2 separate regions of the Homo sapiens genome follow, and region 2 is linked to region 1. The links come from fine-mapping of genetic effects on gene expression. A gene starts in region 1. The other region holds a variant in brackets. All regions are shown on one strand. Distances are between the middles of the regions.

Evidence for each region. PIP is the estimated chance that this variant, and not a neighbour inherited with it, causes the effect.
Region 2: its variant is the best candidate, but not a certain one, in a credible set for the expression of METTL21A in transverse colon (GTEx, PIP 0.73).

Annotation. Positions count from the first base shown.
Region 1 is chr2:207,623,066-207,628,440 of GRCh38, forward strand. It overlaps METTL21A (methyltransferase 21A, HSPA lysine), which reads right to left and starts at 2,329. Exons shown (of 4, transcript NM_001127395.5): 1 at 1,997-2,329; 2 at 1,164-1,339. The coding sequence starts at 1,310. RefSeq lists a silencer at 1,925-2,524 and enhancers at 2,795-3,499, 3,500-4,202.
Region 2 is chr2:206,653,926-206,659,300 of GRCh38, forward strand. All of the region lies in intron 11 of DYTN (dystrotelin), which reads right to left. Among named protein-coding and RNA genes, the nearest start is that of FAM237A, 14 kb to the left of the region's middle. The variant AACTTC/A (reference allele first, on the strand shown) is at 2,775.

The DNA of each region.
Region 1 (5,375 bases):
GCTAATTTTTGTATTTTCAGTAGAGATGGAGTTTCGCCATGTTGGCTAGGCTGGTTTCGAACTCTTGACTTCAAGTGATCTGCCCACCTCGGCCTCCCAAACTGCTGGGATTACAGGTGTGAGCCACCACACCAGGCCTATATCTTTATTATTACCAGAGTAACTTCCATGTAGTTACCTGGACTGGATTCCTAGAAGTGGTATTACTACATTAGAATATATTGAGATTTTTATTCCTACGTGTTTAACATCCCTAACAATGTTAAAACTGTCAAACTGTATTTATGCCAATCATGCATTCAACATTAATTGAGTTCCCACTGAGTCCTAGGTGTGGGGCTAGATGCTGAGGGCTCAAGTCAGAACAGGGCAGGGAGAGGAAGAAGTTAAAAAGCAGTTACAATTTTTTAACAATTACAACTATGGAAAACTTAAAGAAAACACATAATCTCCATTTTGGGCTCTGCCACTTTACAATACTCTGTGAAATAAAGAGACTAACTCGGCTGGGCGCTGTGGCTCACGCCTGTAATCCCAGCACTTTGGGAGGCTGAGGCAGGTGGATCACTTGAGGTCAGGAGTTCCAGATCAGCCTGGCCAACATGTCGAAACCCCATCTCTACCAAAAAATACAAAAATTAACCAGGTGTGGTGGCGTGCACCTGTAGCCCCAGTTACTCCAGAGGCTGAGGTGGGAGAATCACTTGAACCCAGGAAGCGGAGGCTGCATTGAGCCAGGATCGCACCACTGCACTCCAGCCTGGGCAACAGAACGAGACTATGTCTCAAAAGAAAAAAAGACTAACTCGTGTCCAAAGCAGTTGGGGGCTTTCCTTCCTATCCTCTCCGACAAGTCATTAACTTTCCTCAGCTTTCATTTACACCTTTAAAATGTAATCTATGTGGAGGGACAAGAGGAGTGACTAAGGGATACGGGTTTGAGAGTGGCAGTGATAGTAAAACTTTTAAAATTGAAGCGGTAATAGTTGCACTACTCTGTGAATATACTGTATTTTTAAAACCGCACTGAATTGTGCACTTTAAATAGGTAAAGTGTATGCTATGTGAATTATATCTCAATAAAGCTGTTCTAAAAAAAATAAAAAATAAAAGCCAGTCTTGCAAGTGTGAACGTTTTCAGAGGTCCCCCAGGGCTTACTTACCGCATCCCAAACCACCGCTGCGACTCCCAGGTGTCTCCAGTCCTGCCGGATCTGGATCGTGTGGTTTGCAAAGGAAAAAGTTGCAAGAGGCTTGTGGAATTTCTGCAACCCAAATTCCGTGGTCTCCTCATAGGGCACGAGGGCCATTCCGCCTGCACCCCGCCCTCTGCTCAGACCTGCCGTGCAAAAGAATCCTGGGTGACGCTCTGGCCAAAAGATACATTATCTGTTCTTAACTAACTCCAAATGCTTTTAAGGTCGTTTACAAGTTCAAAAGAAAAAAAGAAACAGGTGGAGGAAGCCTTTGTCCAATTTCTTTTGCATGGCTCTTCCGAATCTGAGTGAGATTTGGCTCGGAATTTGTGTCAACGGATGTGTTTGGGGAAGAAGAAAAAAAAAGCCCAGAACATTCCAACTTCCGCAGAATACCCTATACACTGCACTGCTACCACTCCGTGAATTCAGAACTACACAAGCGGCGGAAGCGGCGGTGATCGCCCAGGGCCCCAGAGCAGCGCGGAAAGCAGCGCTTCCAACCCAGACCCGGGCGCCCGGACTGCAGCTGCAGCCAGCCGGGCGGCCCGGGTTCTTTCGCTACGGTTTCGCTACCCACCTCCCCTCCTCCATCGGCTGCTTCGATAGTGATAACAATGGGACAGAACCTGCCCTTAGACTGGGTGTTAGCGGTTTGATAAACCAGAAATACATGGTCGCCGCAGTTCCGTCTCCCCGACCCTGGAAGTGAGCGACACTGGGGGCCTCCAAGCGGCTCGCGGGGACAGCGGGGACTCGGAGGCCTCCCCGAACTCCCCCTATAGCTGCCCCCCACTCACCCCTCTCCCGGGACGACCAGTGCGCCCTTCCTGCCCGGGGGCCCCGGAGCTGCGGCAACCCTCCAGGGGTGAGAGGGAGACCAGGCGAGGGGGGTCACAGGGCCTCTTAGGATCCCCAGGCCATACGGGGCGCCGTGAGCTGCCCGGCGGAGCACCCAGGGCTCGCCCAGGCCGGGCTGAGGCGCCGCCACGCCGGTACTTACGGCCCGGGAGGCGGTCCCGCGTGGAGCGCGCGCTCCGCTTTCCCCGCCCCGGGCTGGCTGCGAAAACCGCCGGCCTTAAAGAGCCCGCGACGCGGGGGCGGGCGGCCCCGGCCCGGAGCCACGCATTTCCGGTCTCCCGGCACCCAGCCTCCGGCAGGTGCCCCCGGAGCTCACGGCGAGGGCGGGGCCGGGCCGTGGCGCGGTGGAGGAGTGACGTTGCGGGAGGGGGGACCGGGGCTTTCCCTCGTGCGTCCCCAGGGTACACGGACGACTTAATCCGTTTCCCCCGCCGCCGAGGGAGGCGCTGTGGGGGCGGGAGCAAGAGTGAGATCGGGGTGCCGAACTGCCGCGGGTGCACAGGGAGAGCATGGGGTGCCCTGGGCTCTCCTAGCGGGAGAGAAAAGCCACCCACCTGGCGCTGAATGTGCCTCTCGACCTTTTCTATCATGTGCTCCGCCGCTCTCTGCCTCTGACTTTGTCGCTTGCGCGTTGTGCCTGTTTTTTAAAGGTGGCGCGTTAGCGGATGATGGAGACAGCTCGCTCCGAAGAAGGCATGGTCACTCTAGTCCCCGCGTCTCCACGGTGGGGTCAGAAGCGGCGTAATAGCCCGCTTGGCGGCAATCGAGTGGAAAAGTCACAAAACCCTTTTCAACTAAAGCACAGTGGGGGAAGTGAACACGTGGCGCCCGAGTCCAAGTTTTTAAAGTGGGGCGGGGGTCGGCGGGCTCTGGCTGCAGTCGGAAGCGCGGAGCTCTGGGCGTGCGCTCGGCTCCAGCCCCGGCCCCAGGCGGCGCTGCAGACTCCAGTGCCCCAGTCTCCCTCCTCCCGATGCCAAGACGCACCTGCCCGTGAGGACCCACGCTGGACGTGGAAGGTGCCGAGGGCCTGGTACCCTGGCCGCAGGCCCTGGCAGAGCGCGCGGCTGGAGTGGGTCCATTGAGTGGGACCGTGCGGGGACCGGCATCCTCCCGGGGCAGGCTTCTTTTTCCTCCTGGGGCCCCTCGCCCCACACCGCCCGCTGCGCTCTCAGCGCGGCTGCACGTTAGAACCAGCTGGGGTAAACCTCCCTTACCAGTCCCCCGCCCCAAGAGCTGGCCATGGGAGGGGGCCCGAGCGCTGATTTTTTTGTTTGGTTTTTTGCTTTTGTTTTTGTTTTTGTTTTTGTTTTGAGACGGAGTCTCTCTCTGTCGCCCAGGCTGGAGTGCAAGGGCGCGAACTCGGCTCACTGCAGTCTCCGCCTTCCGGGTTCAAGCGATTCTCCTGCCTCATTCTCCCGTGTAGCTAGGATTACAGGCCTGCGCCAGCACGCCAGCTAATTTTTGTGGGATTTTGTTTGTTTGTTTGAGACGGAGTCTTGCTCTGTCGCCAGGCTGGAGTGCAGTGGCGCGATCTCGGCTCACTGCAGCCTCCACCTCCCGGGTTCAAGCAGTTCTCCTGCCTCAGCCTCCAAAGTAGCTGGAATTACAGGCGCCCGCCGCCACACCCGGCTTTTTTTGTGTTTTTAGTAGAGACGGGGCTTCACCATGTTGGCCAGGCTGGCCTTGAACTCCTGATCTCCGGTGATCCGCTCATCTCAGCCTCCCAAAATGCGGGATTACAGGTGTGAACCACTGCCACCTCCCCCACCCCTACCGCCCGAGCGCTGATTTTTTTTTTTTATTATTATTATTCAGAGTTTCGCTCTTGTCACCCAGGGTGGAGTGCAATGGCATGATCTCGGCTCACTGCAACCTCCGCCTCCCAGGTTCAAGGGATTCTCCTGCCTCAGCCTCCAAGTAGCTTAGATTAAGGGGCCCACCACCACGACTGGCTAATTTTTGTATTTTTAGTAGAGACGGGGGTTTCACCACGTTGGCCAGACTGGTCTCGAACTCATGACTAAAGGTGATCCACCCGCCTCGGCCTCGCAAAGTGCTGGGATCACAGGCATGAGCCACCGCGCCCGGCAAGCGCTGATATTTTTAAGAGCTCCCGGGGCCGCCCCCGGGAGCCTGCTTCCCGCGGTGGGAGCCTGGCGGGGGCCTGAACCTCTCTCTCCTGGCCTCTTCCGTCCTGTAGGCGGCGTCCCCGGCCTCCAGATTAATCTTCCATCGGAAGGTGGGGCCTGTGGCTTCGAGGGTAACCTCAGGGAACTTGGAAGACCACCAGTGAGGGACTTTTACCTCCTTTTTCGTTTTCTTTTTTGGTCCTCTCGCTTTCTCTCTTAGTATTTCCTTTCTCTCTTACCTCCTGCACTTGGTGTTTCTGCCTCTCAGCTTTCCCTTTATCGAAGACCTCCCTTTCTTGCCTTTATTTTCTCTCTGTCCCTTTTTGCAGGGAGAACCAGCAATGGGCACAAGAAAGAACATGTATGGGCTTTGGGGCCAGACAAATATGGAAAATTTAAATTATTCCTCTGACTCTTTAAATGGGATGACTTTGGGAAATTACTAAACCTCGCTAGATCCCAGGCTGCTCATCCCTGAAGCCTGGCATGGAGCCTTGGGCCCCTTCTGTTTTTTCTCCCTATTCTCCATCCTTTCTGCTGAAATCAAGCATATGACCTCAAAAAACAAAGCAAAACCTTCCCCACCTCTCCAGCACTCTAACATGGAACATGTGCCTCATTATATTATGAGTTTTCTAGGAAGGTGTCATTTACTTTTTCTCAACCGTCTTGTCCTCCCAATGTTCTAAGCTGTATCAGATGGCTCAGGAAGCACCAAAAGGAATATTGAGGAACATATGCAACTCGTATAGCAGTGTAGCCATTAAGCAGAGCTCTGTTTTTATCAAAATAAGCCAGTGGTCCACTGAATATTTGAAAATACATTTTTAATCCTAAAAACAAGTTGGTGTGTGGCAGACTACATATTGTTTGGAGTAGTCGGCCAAGTGTGGTGGCTCACGCCTGTAATCCTAACACTTTGGGAGGCCAGGGTGGGAGGATCACTTGAGCCCAGGAGTTCAAGATCAGCCTGGCCAACATAGTAAGACCCCATGTCTAAAAAAATTTTTTTAAAGGCCAGGTGCAGTGGCTCACACCTGTAATCCCAGCACTTTGGGAGGCTGAGGCGGGTGGATTACAAGGTCAGAAGATCGAGACCATCCTGGCTAACACGGTGAAACCCCATGTCTACTAAAAATACTAAAAATTAGCCGGGCATGGTGGTGGACACCTGTAGTCCCAGCTACTC
Region 2 (5,375 bases), 970 kb before region 1:
TCTTTGCTCACCCCTTGCCTTTCTCTAAGTCACTCTCCACACAATGCCAGAATGTTTTAAAAATAGAAACATACCCCACTTCAAAATAAATGCCCAGTGCAAGCACAGTGCTTGGCACACAACAAATGCTTGATTAATATTTGTTGAATGAATGAATTAGCGATTGAATGATGAGCCAACTACACTTTTTTTCTGCCTTCATGGAGCTTAAATGCTGGAAATATATCTTTTCCCATTAATTACTTCTGTGTATATCTGTATCTCTATCTATCTATGAAGCAATGAATATAGTGAATCCTCGGACAACATGAATTTGAACTGTGTGAGCCAACTAATTCATGGATTTTCTTCTACCTCTGCCATACCTGAGAAAGCAAGAGCAACCCCTCCTCTGACTCCTTATTTTCAGCCTACTCAACGTGAAGATGATGAGGATGAAGATCTTTATGATGATCTACTTCCAGTTAATGAATAGTAAATATATTTTCTTTTCCTTATGATTCCCTTAATAACATTTTCTTTTTTCTAGCTTACTTTTTTGTAAGAATGCAATATATGATACAAATAACATACAAAATATTTGTCGATCAACTGTTTATTTTACTGGTAAGGCTTCTGTTCAACAGTAGGCTATTGGTAGTTAAGTTTTAGAGGAGTCAAAAGTTATATGCTGATTTTTGGCAGCATGGAGGGTCAGTGCCCCTAACTTTTACATTGCTCAAGGGTCAACTCTGTATCCATTACTATTCCAGTAAACACTTCTAGGACTCCCAGGCAACATTTGAGATTACCTTATAAACAAATGAAATACAAATAAGGTGCTCTCCTGAGCTTGGTCATTTCCTTAGAATTTGCTAAATTTGAAGTTTTATTTTCTGATTACTTGATACTTTTGAGTGATGGTTCTAGATGGGGAAAAAAGGAACAGGAATAAACCTCCTGCTCCCCACCCTTAACCATGCTCTCGTACATATAAGATCATGGCATATGCAAATAGAGATCTTTTTACTTGTTCCTTTCTGATTGGGATGCCTCTTCTTTCCTTTTCTTGTCTAATTACTCTGGCTAGGACTTCCAGTACTATGTTGAATAGATGTAGTGAAAATAAGCATCCTTGCTTTGTTCCTGATCTTAAAGAAAAAAACTTCAGCTTTTCACCTTTAAGAAAAAGGAATATGATGTTAGCTGTGGGTTTTTCTTATTTGGACTTTATTATGTGGAGATAATTTCTTTCTATTCCTAGTTTGTTGAGAGTTTCTCATGAGAGTGTATTGAATTCTGTAAAATGCTTTTTTCCTATATCTATTGTGATGATTGTGTGATTTTTTTTTTTTTTTTGAGACAGAGTCTTGCTCTGTTGCCCAGGCTGGAGCACAGTGATGTGATCATAGTTCACTGTAACTTTGAACTCCTGGGCTCAAATGATTCTCTTGTCTCAGTCTCTTGAGTAGCTAGGATTATAGGCATGTGTCACCATGCCCAGCTAAATTTTCTTTTTCTTTGAGATAGGGTCTTGCTCTGTCACCCAGGCTGGAGTGCAGTGGTGCAATCACAGCTCACCGAAGCCTTGATCTTCCAGGCTCAGGCCATCCTCCTGCTTCAGTCTCTTGAGTAGCTGGGACTGCAGGCACGTACCAACACATCCAGCTAATTAAAAAAAAATTTTTTTTTTTTTTTTTGTAGAGATAGGGTCTTGACAAGTTGCTCAGGCTGGTCTCAAACTCTTGGCCTCAATTGGTCCTCCCACCTCAGCCTCCCAAAGCACTAGGATTATAGGCATAAGCCACCACGCCTGGTCATTGATTTCTTCCTTGACCCACTGGTTGTTCAAGAATGTGTTGTGTAGTTTAACATCTCTATACATTTTTTAGTTTTCCTTCTGCTATTAATTTCTAGTTTTATTTCACTGTGGTTGGAAAAGATATTTGGCATGATTTCAATGTTCTTAAATTTGTTAAGACTTGTTTTGTGCATTAACATATGATCTATCCCAGAAAATGTTCCATGTTTGCTGGAGAAGAATGTATATTCTGCACTATTGGGTGAAATAGTCTTTATATGTCTCTCAGGCCTATTTGGTTTACTGTTTTCAAGTCTACTATTTCCTTATTGATTTTCTGTCTGGAGGTTCTAATCATTATTGAAAGTGGTTTATTGAAGTCCCCTACTATTATTCTATCACTGTCTATTTCTCCCTTCAGTTTTGTCAATAATTGCTTTATATATTTAGGTGCTCTGATGTTTGGTGTATATATTATAATAATTATAGTATCTTCTGGGTAAATTGACCCTTTTATCATTTTATAATGACTTCTTTGTCACTTGTGTGAGTTTTTGACTTAAAGTCTATTTTGTCTCATATAACTATAGCCACCCCTGCTATTTTTGAATACCATTAACATAAAATATCTTTTTCCATACCTTCATTTTCAGCCTTTGTGTCCTTAAATCTGAAGTGAGTCTTTTGTAGACAGCATATAGTTGGGTCTTTTTCTTCAATCCATTCAGCAACTGTATGTATATCTTTTGATTGGAGGCTTTAATCCATTTATATTTAATAATTATTGATAGGGGAGGACAATTTTGCCATTTTGAGAGTTGTTTTCTGTCTGTCTTTTAGTTGTATTGCCCCTCTTCTTCTAGTTTGCTGTCTTTTTAAAAAAATATTATTTCGTTTTTTTCTTTTGTGCATCTTTGACAGCTATTATATTTGCACTTACTATGAGGCTTATATAAAAATCTTATAGTAATAACAGCCTATTTTGGCTGATAAT[AACTTC/A]ACTTCAATTGCATTCAAAAAGTTTTCACTTTTAGTTCCCATACACTTTTCTAAATAGTCTTTTTTTTTTTTTTTGAGACGGAGTTTCACTCTTTTTGCCCAGGCTGGAGTGCAATGGCATGATCTTGGTTCACCGCAACCTCTGCCTCCCGGGTTCAAGTGATTCTCCTGCCTCAGCCTCCTAAGTAACTGGGATTAAAGGTGCATGCCACCACGTCCGGCTAATTTTGTAGTTTTAGTAGAGATGGGGTTTCTACATGTTGGTCAGGCTGGTCTTGAACTCCCAATCTCAGGTGATCCGCCCACCTCGGCTTCCCAAAGTGCTGGGATTATAGTCGTGAGCCATCTCGCCCAGCCATCCCCATACACTTTTCTTTTTGGTTTGTTTATTTTTATTTTGTTCATTGTTTCATTGTTGTTTTCATTTTAGAGATGGGATCTTGTTGTCTTGCCCAGAATGGAGTGCAGTGGTGTGATTAGCTCACTGTAACCTCAAACACCAAGGCTCAAGTGACCCTCCCTCCTCAGCTTCCTGAGTAGATATGACTATAGGCATGCGTCACCACACCACACATCTTTACAAAAATTTTTTGGTAAAGATGTGGTCTCACTATGTTGCTCAGGCATACTACCAGCTTCAAGCTAGTAACTGCTTGTTGAAACTACTAGCTTCAATCAGTTCCCTGACTCAGCCTCTCAAAGTGCTGGGATTACAGATGTGAGCCACCACATCCAGCCCACATTTTGTTACTGACATCACAATTTACTTATTTTTGTATTGTATATTCATTAACATATTTTAATGTTGTTTTTAATACTTGAGTCTTTTAACTTTCATATTAAAATTAAAATTATTTAAATACCACTATTTTCATTTTATAGTATTTTGTATTTGCCTGTATATATTTACCTTTACTAATGAGTTGTTGGATATAGTATTTTTGATTGATAGTTTATTTCTTCTTTCAGCACTTTGAATATATTATCCCATTTCTGTGAGATTTCTGATGCAAAAACTGTTATAATCTTATAAGGGTTTCTTTCTACATGATAAGTCACTTTTCTCTTGCTGCTTTCAAAATTCTCTTTTGTGTTTGACTTTTGACAATTTGGTTATAATGTGTCTCAGTGTTGAAGTCTTTCAGTTCATCTAACTCAGGGTCTGTTAGGATTCTTGGATCTGGACGTCCATTTTCTTTCCCAAATTTGAGAAATTTTTGCCCTTGTTTATTTGAATAAGCTTTCTGACCCTTTCTTTCTCCTCTGCTTCTACAACTCCCATATTACAAATATTGGTCAGCTTAATAGCATCCCATGCGTCCCTTAAACGTTCATCACTCTTTCTTCTTTTTTCCCTTCTTGTCAGATAATTTCAAATGATCTGTCTTTGGGTTTGCTGATTTTTCTGCTTGATCTAGTCTGCTGTTGAACACTTCTATTGAAATTTTTAGTTCAATTATTACATTCTTCAGCTCCAAGACTATTGTTTGGTTCTTTTAAAAATTTCTCTATCTCTTTGTTGAAATTCTCATTTCGTTCATGTATTGTTCTCCTGGCTCACTGAGCATTTTTATGATGGTTATTTTCAATTCTCTGTCAGGTAATTCAAATATTACTATTTCATAAGGGTCCATTTTGGAGCTCTTACTTCTTTGTTGGACTATGTTTCTCTATTACTTCTTCTTCTTTACTCTTTATTTTAGTATCTGTGCAATAGAAAAAATAACTATCTCTCTTAGTCTTCAAGACTGGCCTCATACAGAAGACCCTTAGCAATCAGCCTGGTCAGAGATTCTCGGGGGCTGTTCAAACGTTCATACTAGTCCCAGCTGCCTTTTGTTTTTAAGCATCTCTCAGGCATCTAGAATATGATGGGTTTTGTCAGTAATTTGAGACAGGTTAGACAGAAGCCCAGTCCCTTGGACAGCCCCCAGAAGAGTTAGAAAGTTGGATGAATGGTCCAATTGTTTCCCCCTGCAAAGTGAGAAGCTGGGATATGGGTTTTATTTTCCTGTTTGCTTTGCATTGAGCCTTTTGGAAAAGCTATGATAAGTGTTTTCATGCTAGTCCAAGATACCATCTTTGTTCTCAAACCATGCCCTCCTAATATCATCACTCTACTCCTCTGTCTTGACTTCTCATCAGTGAAACCTATAGTGGCAAATGAATAGTTAAAAAGGATGGAAAAAGAAGCTAGAAAAATAACTTAGTAGACATATGCAAGAAATTTTACTATCAAATGGAAAAAAATAGTTGAATAATACAGTAAAACAAGAGGACTTTTTTTTTTTTTTTTGCCACAGCAGAGGCAAGGAACAGCTGACACTTTTCCAAATTTATTTTTTACTGCAATTTTTATGCAAATTATTCACTACTGATTTTCAATCCAAGTTTGGAATTTAAAGAGGTTTGTGGAACTTCTACACAGTTTTCTCTTTTCCGTTAAGTTCTCACAGTCTCTTTTTTTTTTTTTTTTTTTTTTTTTGAGACGGAGTCTCACCCTGTCGCCCAGGTTGGAGTGCACGGGCGCGATCTCAGCTCACTGCAAGCTCCGCCTCCTGGGTTCAAGCCATTCTCCTGCCTCAGGCTCCCGAGT